Homo sapiens: one gene and its partner. The protein of the gene in region 1 purifies or fractionates together with the protein of each later gene. This does not show direct contact. Each region holds a gene or a part of one and is shown in the gene's direction. Other genes may lie near its edges.

Region 1 (3,860 bases):
TTCAAAAAAACAAAACAAAATGAAACAAAACAAAAAAAAAAAATAGAGGAATTGGAAGAACTAGAGGGATATCCAGAAACAGGAAGAGCCTAGAACTCTAGGATTATTGTTTTGAAAAATAGGCTAGGAGCTGGGCTTGATGATATAACATTTTATTTTTATTTAATAAGGGAAAGAGAAAATTGGGAGTTTCCAGAGATAGTAGTACTAGCCTAATATTGGGCTTCGGCGAGATGTATTTAAAGAGACGAAATAGCTGCTAAATGACGAGTTAATGGGTGCAGCACACCAGCATGGCACACGTATACATATGTAACTAACCTGCACATTGTGCACATGTAGCCTGAAACTTAAAGTATAATAATAATAAAATAAAGAGACGAAATAGCAAATGAACGTTTTGAAGTATTTGTCCTTGTAATGCAATGACATGAGCCTGTCAAGCCCACGCTAACGGGCGTGTTTGTTTGTTTGGGGGCTGCAGTGCACCTGGAGCAGAGAGGGGCCCTCCCGAGGACCGCGACGCCGAGCCTCAGCCTGGCAGCCCCGCCGCCGAATCCCTGGAGGAGCCAGATGCGGCCGCCGGCCTCAGCAGCACCAAGAAGGCTCCGCCGCCCCGCGATCCCGGCACCCCCGCTACCAAAGAAGGCGCCTGGGAGGCCATGGCCGTCGCCCCCGAGGAGCCTCCGCCCAGCGCCGGCGAGGACATCGTGGGGGACACAGCACCCCCTGACCTGTGTGATCCCGGGAGCTTAACAGGCGATGCGAGCCCGTTGTCCCAGGACGCAAAGGGGATGATCGCGGAGGGCCCGCGGGACTCGGCGTTGGCGGAAGCCCCGGAAGGGTTGAGTCCGGCTCCGCCTGCGCGGTCGGAGGAGCCCTGCGAGCAGCCACTCCTTGTTCACCCCAGCGGGGACCACGCCCGGGACGCTCAGGACCCATCCCAGAGCTTGGGCGCACCCGAGGCCGCAGAGCGGCCGCCAGCTCCTGTGCTGGACATGGCCCCGGCCGGTCACCCGGAAGGGGACGCTGAGCCTAGCCCCGGCGAGAGGGTCGAGGACGCCGCGGCGCCGAAAGCCCCAGGCCCTTCCCCAGCGAAGGAGAAAATCGGCAGCCTCAGAAAGGTGGACCGAGGCCACTACCGCAGCCGGAGAGAGCGCTCGTCCAGCGGGGAGCCCGCCAGAGAGAGCAGGAGCAAGACTGAGGGCCACCGTCACCGGCGGCGCCGCACCTGCCCCCGGGAGCGCGACCGCCAGGACCGCCACGCCCCGGAGCACCACCCCGGCCACGGCGACAGGCTCAGCCCTGGCGAGCGCCGCTCTCTGGGCAGGTGCAGTCACCACCACTCCCGACACCGGAGCGGGGTGGAGCTGGACTGGGTCAGACACCACTACACCGAGGGCGAGCGTGGCTGGGGCCGGGAGAAGTTCTACCCCGACAGGCCGCGCTGGGACAGGTGCCGGTACTACCATGACAGGTACGCCCTGTACGCTGCCCGGGACTGGAAGCCCTTCCACGGCGGCCGCGAGCACGAGCGGGCCGGGCTGCACGAGCGGCCGCACAAGGACCACAACCGGGGCCGTAGGGGCTGCGAGCCGGCCCGGGAGAGGGAGCGGCACCGCCCCAGCAGCCCCCGCGCAGGCGCGCCCCACGCCCTCGCCCCGCACCCCGACCGCTTCTCCCACGACAGAACTGCACTTGTAGCCGGAGACAACTGTAACCTCTCTGATCGGTTTCACGAACACGAAAATGGAAAGTCCCGGAAACGGAGACACGACAGTGTGGAGAACAGTGACAGTCATGTTGAAAAGAAAGCCCGGAGGAGCGAACAGAAGGATCCTCTAGAAGAGCCTAAAGCAAAGAAGCACAAAAAATCAAAGAAGAAAAAGAAATCCAAAGACAAACACCGAGACCGCGACTCCAGGTGAGCCTGGGGCCTTGTGCTCCCCGAGGCGCTGGCGCTGCTGTCAGCAGTGGGGCCTGTCCCTTCTCACTCGACTCAGGAACAAGTGACCAGCCAGGCCACAGTTGTATCCGTCTGATTTGTGTCTTTCATTTCTGTGGGTTTTGAGAGTTCACTATTTTTACAGATTTGTAAAAATTTGCCCTGCTTTGAAGCTGTATCTTTATTCTTCATGGTGTCGTTAAATGCCTAACAACCTTCTTTTTCAAAATGATAGTGCCATTTTTGGTGAATGCTTTATAACTCTTCCAGGAGTAAGCATGCAGTGTTCCATCAATGAACAATTGGGAGTCTTTGACCTTAGAATTGGTGTTAATATTCTTACTTGTCAGATGTAGTTATGTTTTCATATCTGTTATATTTTCCTGAAATTCAGTGGCTGTGAGGGAGGCAGACAACAGGAGGCACACTTTTCCTGTGCCTGCCCGCCTGCCCAGCGTAGGCATCGGAGACACCTTCGTTTCCTCGGCCTTTGTTTTTGTCTCCATTTTTCAACTTGAAATCCAATTGGGAAATTTGCTTCTGTATTTTTTAAGAGACAGGGTGTTGCTCTGTCACCCAGGCTGGAGTGCAGTGATGCCATCATAACTCACTGCAGCCTTGACCTCCTGGGCTCAAATGATATTTCTGCTTCAGCCCTCAGCCTCTGGAGTAGCCGGGACTGCAGGCGTGTGCTACCATCCTCAGCTAATTTTTTATTTTTGTAAAGACAGGATCTCACTATGCCGCGCACGCTGTTCTCAAACCCCTAGACTCAAGCGATCCCAAAGCACTGGGATCACAGGCATGAGCCACCTCACCTGGCCTGTTTTTGTATTTTTAAAAAGCTAAATTGGTTGGTGATTGTCTTGAAAATGACGTATCCATGATGAGATGGATGAGCAGGAGCAGAATTAGTAATTTTAGTTGACATCTCTTGAAACTGAAACCCTGGGAAAGATTACCAAAAGCCATATGGAAAATAGGCAGTGGTTATTGGAGGGAAAAATAATATTGCTGCCAGGTGTCTCAGGCACATGGGAGGGAAGGAGGCTTAGTATTTCCTTTCCCTTCAAGTAACTACTGGTTTCGGGAAAAGTTAGCAGAATCCTCCCTGCAGTGTTTGTCCAACAGCCTTAGTTCCTGAGAAAGCTGAAGCAGAGATGGGACTGTTCAGGATGGAGCTAAAGTTGGTGAATTTATGGCCCTGGACTGAAACAGTCATTACAGTGAAGGCAAACTTGTTAAATTTTTGAGACAGGGTCTTGCTCTGTTGCCCAGGCTGGAGTGCGGTGTTGCAGTCGTAGCTCACTGCAGCCTCAATCTCCTGGGCTCAAGTGATCCTCCTGCTTCAGCCTCCCGAGTAGCTGGGACTACAGGTGTGCGCCACCATACCTGGCCTACGTGGCTAATTAGATAAGAATTGTGCGTGTCTGCACAGTGAATGTTCTCGGTGAATGGGTGGAAAGGCCAAGCTCCAGGGTCTGCTGCTGGTGGTTTTGTGTTTTAGGGTTTTGAATTCTGGCTTTTCCTTCTGCAGGCATCAGCAGGACTCAGACCTCTCAGCAGCGTGCTCTGACGCTGACCTCCACAGACACAAAAAAAAGAAGAAGAAAAAGAAGAGACATTCAAGAAAATCAGAGGACTTTGTTAAAGATTCAGAACTGCACTTACCCAGGGTCACCAGCTTGGAGACTGTCGCCCAGTTCCGGAGAGCCCAGGGTGGCTTTCCTCTCTCTGGTGGCCCGCCTCTGGAAGGCGTCGGACCTTTCCGTGAGAAAACGAAACACTTACGGATGGAAAGCAGGGATGACAGGTGTCGTCTCTTTGAGTATGGCCAGGGTAAGAGGAGATACTTGGAATTAGGAAGATAGAAACTATTTCTTAATACATTTTCTTTGCAAAGGTGATTAACATG
Region 2 (3,500 bases), on another chromosome or scaffold:
GAGTCAAGAATTACTCGTTGGCTTTTGCTTATACAATTGTTCCAGTACCGTTTGTTAAAACCATTTGTTTTTTTCCATTGAGTTACACTGACACCTTTGTCAAAAATCAACTGGCCATAAATATGTGGTCTACTTATTGGACTCTTCAGTTTCATTAATATCTCTCTCTCTCTCTCTCTCTATATATATATATAATATATAAATATATATTATGTATTCATATATAATATATAAATATATATTATGTATTCATATATAATATATAAATATATATTATGTATTCATATATAATATATAAATATATATTATGTATTCATATATAATATATAAATATATATTATGTATTCATATATAATATATAAATATATATTATGTATTCATATATAATATATAAATATATATTATGTATTCATATATAATATATAAATATATATTATGTATTCATATATAATATATAAATATATATTATGTATTCATATATAATATATAAATATATATTATGTATTCATATATAATATATAAATATATATTATGTATTCATATATAATATATAAATATATATTATGTATTCATATATAATATATAAATATATATTATGTATTCATATATAATATATAAATATATATTATGTATTCATATATAATATATAAATATATATTATGTATTCATATATAATATATAAATATATATTATGTATTCATATATAATATATAAATATATATTATGTATTCATATATAATATATAAATATATATTATGTATTCATATATAATATATAAATATATATTATGTATTCATATAATATATATAATGTATTTATATGTAATATATATTATGTATTTATATATTAATATATTGTACATACATAATATATAGTATATTTATATATTAATATAATTAATATTTATGACATATTATTATATATATATTTGCCAGTGGTACACTGACATTATTTTAGTAGCTTTATAGTAAGTCTTGAAATCAGTTAATCCTTCAATCAATTGTCCTTCAACTTTGTTTATCTTCTTCAATATTATTTTGGCTGTTCCAGGTCCTTTGTACTTTCATATAAACTTTAAAGTCAGCTTATCAGTTTCTGCAGAAAAATTTTTTGGTATTTTGAGTGGAATTGCATTGAATCTATAGATCAATTTAAAGAAAATCAACAATTAACACTTCTTAGTCTTCTAATCCATAAGCATAGTATATCTGTTCATTATTTGGATAGTCTTTAATTTCTCTCAACAATGTTTTATAAATTTCAGAGTACAAGTATTACAATTTTTTGTTAAATTTCTCCCTAAGTATTTAATGTTTTTGATACTGTTCTTTAGAATTTTAATTGCAGGTATTCATTGTTAGTATATACAAATACATTTGATATTTGTATATCTGCCCTGAATCCTATGACCTTATTTCATTTATTAATTCTATTAGCTTTTTATGCCTTCTGATAATAAAGATAATTTTACTCTTTTCCTTTTCAATCTGATTGCTGTTTATTTCTTTTTTACCTTATCTCTCTGGCCAGAGCCTCCAGCAAAATATTGTTCAGTGTTGAGAGCCACATATCTTTCCCTTGATCTTAGGGGGAAAGCATTTTTTGTCTGTTAGTATGGTGAATTTCATTGCTTGATTTTCTTATGTTTATACCCCACTTGGTCATGGTGTTATTTTTATATATTGCTGGATATAATTTTGTTAAATGAGGGATCTTTGTTCATGAGGGGTATTATTCTGTAGTTCTTTTTTCTTATGTATCTTTGTATGGTTTTGATGTCAGAGTAATGCCGGCCTCATAAGATTAGTTGGGAAGTGTTTGTCCCACTTCAGTATTTTAGAAGAGATGTGTAGAATTGGTATTATTTCTTCCTTGAATATTTGATAGAATTCACTTATGAAGCCATTTATTTATTTATTTATTTATTTATTTATATTATTTTTTTTTGAGACAGAGTCTCACTCTGCCACCCAGGCTGGAGTGCAGTGGCGCGATCTCGGCTCACTACAAGCTCAGCCTCCTGGGTTCACGCCATTTTCCTTCCTCAGCCTCCTGAGTAGCTGGGATTACAGGCATGTGCCACCATGCCTGGCTAAGTTTTTGTATTTTTCAGTAGAGACAGGGTTTCACCATGTTGGCCAGGCTGGTCTCGAACTCCTGATCTCAAGTGATCTGCTCACCTCTGCCTCCCAAAGTGCTGGGATTGCACGCGTGAGCCACCATGCCTGGCCAACAGTGTTCTTTTATTTTACACTTTACTCCTTTATGTTATATTGTTTTCATACATTTTGTTTTTATATAAATGCTATAATGTATTGTTTTTACTTTACATAGTCAGTTACCTTTATGAAGATTTCAAAGTCAGAAAAATATATTTTTACATTTATTATTACTAATCTTGTGCTCATTATACTTTTATGTTAATACGAATGTCCATTTTGTATTATTTACTTCTGCCTGAAGAACCTCCTTTCTGGGACTCTGGATACACAGATGTAAGACCATCTCATATGGTTCCACAGGTCACCGATGTTCTCTTCATTTTTTTCAGTCATTTTTCTGTCTTCATTTCAGATAGTTCTACTGTTTTGTCTGTACGTTCACTGATGTTTTTATTTAGTGTCTAATCTGCTGTTCTTTCCTTCTAATGTGTTTTTAAAGGCAGTATTTTCATCTCTAGAAGTTCAAGTCTTTTAAAAATTAAAAAAAAAAAAAATATATATATATATATATATATATGTATATATATCTTCTGGCCCGGCGTGGTTTATGTCTGTAATCCCAGTGGTTTAGGAGGCCAGGTTGGGATGATAGCTTGAGGCTAGGAGTTTGAGAACAACCTGGGCAACATAGGAAGACCCTATCATCTCTACAAAAGAATAAAAAAATTAGTTGGGCATGGTGATGGGCCACCTGTATTCCTAGCTACTGGGGAGGCTGAGGCAGGAGGATCACATGAACCCAGGAATTTGATTTTATAGTGAGCTGTGATTGTGCCACTGCATTCCAGCCTGTATGACAGAGTGAGACCCTGTCCCCCTAAAAAAAGTTAATAATATCTTCCATTTCTCCTCTCATTATGTTCAAGTTTTCCTCTACCTTCTTGGACATAATGAATGTATTTATAACAGATGCTTTAACATTCTTGTCTCCTAATTACATCAACTCTGTCATCTCTGAGACTGTTTCTGTTTATTACTTTTGGCATTTTTTTCTTTTACTTTTCTTTCTGTTTTGTCTTCTTGTTATCCAGTGCTTTGTCTGTGGAGAAAATGCAAGTACAAATTTTATATTCCATATGCACATGAGAAACGGGTTCAGATTTGTAAAGAGCTAGTAAAAATCTACTTGTAAATGTGTCTGATTGCTCATTGCAATCAGAGTCTCAAGATGACAACAGTATTTAACTTCTCTTCAGCCTTAATTATGTAAATAACAACCTTTGTATATTCTTTGTGTTTCTTATAATTTTGTTGGGCAGCTAGGTTTTTGTATATTCC

The links. Proteins that work in one complex are often made in the same cells at the same time.
Region 2: the proteins of USP42 (region 1) and YTHDC2 purify together in Homo sapiens (affinity purification with mass spectrometry; one large-scale study listed by BioGRID and IntAct). This does not show direct contact.

The regions. Positions count from the first base shown.
Region 1 is NC_000007.14:6,153,272-6,157,131, forward strand, and holds part of USP42 (ubiquitin carboxyl-terminal hydrolase 42), read left to right. Parts: exon of another isoform or gene 1-392; intron 393-484; coding exon 485-1,924; intron 1,925-3,482; coding exon 3,483-3,784; coding exon of another isoform or gene 3,785-3,816; exon of another isoform or gene 3,817-3,860. UniProt on the Homo sapiens protein: Deubiquitinating enzyme which may play an important role during spermatogenesis.
Region 2 is NC_000005.10:113,586,694-113,590,193, forward strand, and holds part of YTHDC2 (3'-5' RNA helicase YTHDC2), read left to right. Parts: intron 1-3,500. UniProt on the Homo sapiens protein: 3'-5' RNA helicase that plays a key role in the male and female germline by promoting transition from mitotic to meiotic divisions in stem cells.